Linked DNA regions of Homo sapiens. The protein of the gene in region 2 purifies or fractionates together with the protein of the main gene of each other region. This does not show direct contact. Each region holds a gene or a part of one and is shown on either strand. Other genes may lie near its edges.

Evidence for each region. The genes of interacting proteins can lie anywhere in the genome.
Region 1: the proteins of NOLC1 (region 2) and CSNK2A2 purify together in Homo sapiens (affinity purification with mass spectrometry; 5 studies listed by BioGRID and IntAct, with this or other methods). This does not show direct contact.

Annotation. Positions count from the first base shown.
Region 1 is NC_000016.10:58,163,435-58,167,259, forward strand, and holds part of CSNK2A2 (casein kinase II subunit alpha'), read right to left. Parts: coding exon 3,773-3,825; intron 3,251-3,772; coding exon 3,150-3,250; intron 2,275-3,149; coding exon 2,126-2,274; intron 714-2,125; coding exon 637-713; 3' UTR 620-636; exon of another isoform or gene 1-619.
Region 2 is NC_000010.11:102,150,334-102,153,933, reverse strand, and holds the start of NOLC1 (nucleolar and coiled-body phosphoprotein 1), read right to left. Parts: upstream 1,546-3,600; 5' UTR 1,524-1,545; coding exon 1,404-1,523; intron 1-1,403. UniProt on the Homo sapiens protein: Nucleolar protein that acts as a regulator of RNA polymerase I by connecting RNA polymerase I with enzymes responsible for ribosomal processing and modification.

The DNA of each region.
Region 1 (3,825 bases), on a different chromosome or scaffold from region 2:
AGAGGACTCTTGTGAAAGTGACTGCAGTTTGCTCCCAAATGAATCCACTTGGAGGAAAACTGCGGGGATGAGGTACATTTCCTGGAGAGCTCATGTCATTAAAAAATACATAAAACGTGGATTTGTAAAGAGCTTAAAAAAAAAATACTGTCACTGTTTTAATATCTCCTTTTTGTAAATGAGGCTGGTGTGTCAGTATAGACTGCTGACATTTCGCTAAGACTTGAGCCTGAATTTCACCAAAGGAAACCCAGACCACAATGGAATAGATAGGAAGTCAGACATTCAGAGCTTGTTGACTGAATGGGTTAATTCAACAGTGGTGCCCTGTTAAACAAAGGTAAATGTACAACAACTCCGAGTCTCTATCTCCCATGCATTCCAAAGGCAGAGCTCCTTCAGATCCTGAACTAGGTGCATCCCCATGCTGCCACAGTGACAGCTCCCTGGAGACTAGCACTGGGGAGTTTCTTTCTTGCTTTTTGACAGACTTTTAGGTCTTTACTCTTCTGTGCATTTAGAAGGAATGATAAGAATTTCTTTTTATCACACTGTAGTTTTCCTTCAAGGTTTGTGTTTGGTTGGTTGGTTTTATTGGCAAGCATCAATGCCGCATTACCCGTCGCTTTCCAGTCTTCATCGTGCTGCCGTGAGACCACTGGAAAGCACAGCATTGTCTGCACAAGGCTGGGACTGCTCCTTCACCACAGGGTCTGCAAGAAAGCAGGAGGAAAGTCAGGCAATCAGGGTGGTGAGTGCTGAGAGAAGCCCATGGCAAACCCACCCTTTCAACGGAAAGAGAGACAGACTGATGGGCAAGCCAGGGTCAGGGGGGCAACAGGAGAGACGGAAATCACGGAATTCCAGCCATATAAAAACCAAACACTGAAAAATGATCAGGGAAATTGTTATTGCAGTCAACTCTTACCCTTCCTCGGAGTACAGACTCAATGCTAAGAGGCATAGAAACTCTAATTTCCCACTGTTCAAATTTCTACATTTATTTTCTTTCAATATTAATATCATCTCTAACCCCTAATTTCTTCAAAGCATGTAGAATAACAAGCACTTCAAAGGAAAGGTGAGTAAAAAGAGCCATCAGAAGACCTATCCATTTTAAGCAACCGTAGTTTGAAATTTTTTAAATTGAAGTATGACATATATTCAGAAAAGCAGAAAGATCATTAATGACATGTCATAAACATCAGTATTCCTAATTTGATCTAACTCGGGTAAAAACAGCTTTCTGTGCCAGACACTGGGGCGGGGACATCTGAGTTTCCTGGGGCTGAGGTCTAGAAGGCTGAAGGCTTTTCCATTTGCGGTCTCCCTTATGCATATGGGCCACAGGCTCAAGACTACAGCGACACATTCTTCAGGCAAGAATTTAGTTCATCTCCAGAGGAAATCAAAGGAGAGGGAAAGACAGCATGTTTGTTAAGCCAGAGACAACGACTTTAAGGGGTGAACGTTTCCCTCTTGATTCAGAAAGCGACTGAGGTAAGTCTCTCAACCTCCCTGCTCCCCAGGAAGGAGACTGATAATAGGAGGAAGTTTATTTGAAACACACGTTATCAGAGGAAAGAACCATACACATGCAGAAGAATAAGCAAACACGCAAAGTGAATCCACACACACTTCTAAGTGAGCAGTTCAGTCAAGATTTCAGTGAGGCCTCTCCACACTTACTTCCCTTTCCTCAAATTCCTTTCGTCCATCCATCTGTTCATCTCCTTCTTTCAAAACATACAATAGTTATCTTACTACTTTTAACTAATTACTAGTTTTCTGAGGGGAGAAATAATCTTCAATTAGGTTTCCACACAAATATATGTATGTTTAAAAAGAAATTTTAGAAACTTGCGATCTATTAACTCAGGGTAACAGGGAGTAGTCAAACAGCTTGAACTCCGGGGAGATACATTCAGTGAATAAGCAAACACCTTTGGTGATCAAGAAACGGATCTGCAAAGTTGTCTCAATCATCTACGATAAATGAGGCCAAATTCTAGGAATAATCCAATCCAAATACCCTAGAATTCTCCTGACTGGTCTCAAAGACAAAGAGTGGAAGATTTGTTCTCTTGACTGAATTACTCCCTGAACACAGTCCCTGGAGACTCACAGAAGTATGGGTGCTCCATGGCCTCTTTGGCAGTCAGTCTCTGTTGATGGTCGTATCGCAGAAGTTTGTCCAGAAGATCTAGGGCCTCAGGGCTGACAAGGTGTCTGTTCTCACTATGGATAAAGTTTTCCCAGCGTTTCCGTGAATGTCTGAGAAGAAAAATGAAGCATTAGTAACCAGAGACTAAATTCAACAAGAATCCTTATCTACTAGGGCTAAAGCCAACAAAATCTCAGAATAATGTACTGATTACAAGCTTGTTAAATCTCTAACTGGTGCCTGCCCTACGGCCCCATAGTTACAGCATAGCATCCTGAAACACAATGGTGCTCTGTGATTAGAAAAATACAACTAGGTAAAACTTCTATATCTCATTTAGAATATGTGGAACCTTTCTAGATTATTTTTTATGCTGTAGACTTTTAGTCAATTCTGGGTGGCATGCAGAAGAGTGGGCAATTTTTATTGGTCAGCAGATATATTTCCCAGGGCTAGCCTCAGAAACAGGGAGGTTCCATAAAATACTGTTTGAAAACTGTTAACAAAATGTTTACTTCTCAACATTATTGCAATGTACCTGAAAACTCAATGTGCTTTAAAATTTGCTATTGTATAGAAAATCCATTACAGAGAACAAGAAGAAATTGTAAGTCCACCTTGAAGAGATATGAAGTAAATAAAATAAAATATAATAAAAAACAAACTAAGTCTCTTATTCAAAGAATCATTGCTCTCCAAGTTTGGCCATTAAAAATAAGCTTTTGCTGTACCAGAAAACTTTTTTCTATAACATTATGATTTTTGTTTTACCTTTTCTATTAATAGGTTATCTCTCAGAGAAGTAAAATGATTAAAAGACATAAAGTCCAAATATCTCAATAAGTTAAAAGAAAATATGCATAGGAAAAAAGAGGGCTACTTCCATTTTACTATAATCAGAATGGGAAAAGAAAGTGATTTTGGCTAACCTTTCCACTTCTGAAACGGGGTAAGGTAAAGCACTCTCTCTCTCTCTCTTACTTACTGTCCCAGGATATCGTTGAAGTGTGGATCTAGGTCTATGTGATACTTCTTCAGATACCCATACAGTTCTTCTGTACCCAGAACCTTGGCAATGCGAACAAGCTGAAACACAAAACAAACTGACCAAATCACTGAGCACAGAACACACCATGAGCCCGTGAGGACACTGCACCAAGGAATCAGAAGACTTCCACACCACTAAACCTCTAGGAACGAGATACAAACCCAGGTCCAGGGCAGGCAGACAGACCCAAGGACAAGAAGTTCACATGAATGCAAATTTCCAAACGGCCTTTAAAATAATACAACTTACGATAATAATCTTCTAGAGGTGGACCAGTACAGGGCATCACAATCTAATGACTAAAATCTAGTTTTATTAGACAAGGAGGTGCCTGACTTCTTCACAGATTCACTTTGGAAGTTTGGCATAGATGGCATTATCTGCCTCTACTTCTGCGGACCTGGTAAACACAAAATTCTGTGCGATCTTTATCTTGAAGAAAAGCTCATATGCAGACACTGAGTGATACTTAGTGGCTCAAGGATAGTATTCTTATCTAAGGATGCTATTTTTTTGGCATTCACCCCCAAATAAATAAGAACCAGAAAGCATTTGCTCACCTGGTCATAGTTGTCCTGTCCATGGAAGAATGGTTCCCTTCGAAAGATCATGC
Region 2 (3,600 bases):
TGAGAGGCTGAGGCAAGTGGATTTCTTGAGGTCAGGAGTTCAAGACCAGCCTGGCCAACATGGTGAAACCTCATCTCTACTAAAAATACAAAAATTAGCCGGGCGTGGTGGTACGCGCCTGTAATCCCAGCTACTGGGGAGGCTGAGGCAGGATAATCACTTGAACTTGGGAGGCGGAGGTTACAATGAGCCGAGATCGCACCATTGCACTCCAGCCTGGGCAACAGAGACTCCGTCTCAAAAAAAAAAAAAAAAAAAAAAGAATCCTAATTCTGAAATGTCCAATTCCATCCAGTCCACTGTGAAAGCACTCTCCGCAGTCTCCTTAACAGTCAACTCTAAACAGTTTCATTAAGAAAGCAGTTAGATCACATGGCAGCCTGTCCCAGCTTAAGGAAGTTTTGAGGCTGATCTGATTCTTTGCTTTCGCAGCCTGATTCTGCTAAAAGTGCAAGCCATCCTTCCTAGTCATGCTATCATCCCTGCTGAAGACCCCCCCTCTCTCCTCTCTCAAAGTGTCTTCCCATGCAGGAATGTCCGTTGATGTAGATTACAAACCTTTCACATTCCTGGTTCTCTTACTCTTACATGTGTTTGGAGCATCCTAAATTGCCATAACTATGGTACAGCTTTCACTTTTACAAGATTCCTCTGTACCAGCACTGAGATTGCTACTCTTACACATCATCTTACTGAAACTCACAAAAATCCTATAAAGTGGATGATGACATCCCTGTAGAAAGACTCAGAAAGGTTAAATAAACTGCCCGGGTCACGTATCTAAAAAGTGGCAGAGCCTGGTCCCAAACCTAGGTTTGTTTGATTCAATTAGCCAAAGCTCCAAGCCCACTACTATGCCTACTTGGTAGGGCTGTTGATGACTCTCAATTCTCAGTGTAACTCAAAACAAAACTCTGCTTCTACTTTCATTCATTTTCTTCTTTACAAACGAAAATCCCAGACTTCATTCTAAAGAAATTTCACTTGCTTTTGAATCCCAGTAAATGTGACTGAGGCTAAGGTCAAATCACGGTTTGCCTCACCCAACGAAAAGCCCCCCAGAAGATGCCGAAGAACCAACGTCCTCAGTGGAACAAGACTCTACCTCCCCGCTGCACTCTGCCAGCCATGTGGCTTGGGGCCACGAGGCTCCCACGCTGCCGCCGCTGCACAGGTCACAAGAAAAAAGCAACAAGACTCAGCGATATCTACTCAGACATGGAGGAAGGTAAGCGACCGAGGCCGCAGGCTTTCTCTGGTCACTGCCGAGGGGTCGGCGTAAAGGCCTTGCAGACACTGGACTGGCGGACCCCCAGACTTCCCCACCTGGAAACCTAAGCACGTCAGGGCCTGAAGCCTTGTGGTCATCTCAGCCCGGTCCCCGCCCCAAGCCCGGAACTCACAGCTCCTGTCGCTTTGGCGAACTTATTGGCCACCTCTGAGAGTTGGTTATCGCGCAGGAAGCCGAGCACGAGGGGATACAGGTCGCTGGGAACCACGCGGCGAATGCCGGCGTCCGCCATCCTCCAGGCAATACGCGTCACTACCGTTGTCGACGCAGCACGACTCAGGAACCCAACAGGGGCAGTGGGCGGGCCTGTGTTACGTCATTGCGCCGCGCGGGCGCATAACGGAAAGGGTGGGCTCCACAGGGCAGTCCCACCTTCACCTCAGAGGTAGGGTAGACGGGAAATCTATAAACTCTTTCCGGTCCCACGCGTATCGCCATCTTGGTTAAGGGCGGAGCCCACCGGCCGCCAGCTTGTGGAGGCGGAGCTCTGACGTCAGGGATCACGCCCTCGGCGTGGCGGGAAAACTCGGGACTTCCCGCGCAGTCTTTCTGGGGGAGGTACCTTTTCTCAGAGCAGCGGTTTCCCGCGCCCCTGCTGGGACTCGGATTCCAGAGTAATGAGTGGACAAGCGGGCTCGAACAGTTGTTCTACAAGATCTCCCAACCGCCCCCATGGCGTACTGGCACGGCCAATGGATTCTCGCCCTTCATCTTCACTGCCTCCAATACCCAGGGAGGCCCTTTCTGATACCATCCCAGCCTCCAGACTCCTGCCTCTGCTGCAGAAGATCCTTCGGGTTATCCGTCGTGAGGGTGGGAGGTGTTGATTTCCCAAGCTGCCCCTCCCATCTCCCTTATATTCCGCCTTAGGTCAGCTCCATGAAGAGGAAAGGTGTCATGCACCAAACCTGAATCACACACAGCAACAATCTATTCAAGCTGAAGAGATTGTTGAAAATAACCCTTCTTCCTCCGGGATCAGAGTTCACACTCTGCCTTTGTCATGAGTAACTCCAGTATCAATGCCTTTGTCATGAGTAACTCCAGTATCAATGCTCAGACCTACCAAGTTAATTCCAAGTTCTGCCACATTCCAGATATTAGCAGTTAGCAATCCCTTCAATCCTACCCACTACCCCTTGGCTACCTCCCACTAATGCCGCTCAGGAAAGATAAGGATCCTCATGGGAACACACCCCCCTCTCCTATATAAAATTGGCCAGGCATAGTGGCTCACAACTGTTATCTCAACACTTTGGAAGGCCTAGGTGGGAGGATCCCTTGAGCCCAGGAGTTAAGAGGCCAGCCTGGACAACACAGTGAAACCCCCCTATCTCTACAAAAAATTTTTAAAATTAGCCAGGTGTAGTGGCATGCACCTGTGGTCCCAGCTACTTGGGAGGCTGGGGCAGGAGGATCAACTGAGCCAGGGAGGTCAAAGCTGCAATGAGCTATGATCCTGCCACTGCAATCCAGCCTGGGCCACAGAGTGAGATCCTATCTCAAAAATCAAAAACAAAGCTGGGCACGGTGGTTCATGCCTGTAATCTCAGCACTTTGGGAGGCTAAGGTGGGTGGATCACCTGAGGTCAGGAGTTCAAGAACAGCCCTGGCCAACATGGTGAAACCCTGTCTCTACTAAAAATACAAAAAAAATTAGCCAGGCATGGTGGCGGGTGCCTGTAATCCCAGCTACTCAGGAAGCTGAGGCAGGAGAATCACTTGAACCCGGGAGGCAGAGGTTGCAGTAAGCCAAAATCGTGCCACTGCACTCCAGCCTGGGAGACAGAACAAGACTCCATCTCCAAAACAAAACAAAAAAATTCAAAAACAGAAACAAAAAACTCCACAGTTCCCTCTTCCCCACGCTTCCTGTTCTACCCACATGCATGCATTATTTAAAACATTTGAGCACCTGCTGTGCCATGCAGTGTGCTCAAGCTATTATAAAATGATGAACATAACTGACATGATGAATGTATACACCTGTCGCAGTTTAGAAAACCTTTCTTTGGAACAAGTGTGAGCTTCTCTAGGTCCTTGTTATCAAAATCCCTTCCTGGACCAGTATCATCATCCCATTGTCAGAATCTACATTCTAAAAAGATCGCTAGATGATTCAAATTCCCTTTAAAGTTGAGAAGCACTGTCCTAAATGACTCATTTTAGACAATACATCTGAGGAACCAAGGTTCAAATCCAGTGGGATTTTTGCACCTGACCAGGGAGAGGCATGTCCCTGGACCATGTTCAGATAGGAAAAGTGAATACATTTGGCATTAGCACCATATAAAGACGCACAACAGCAG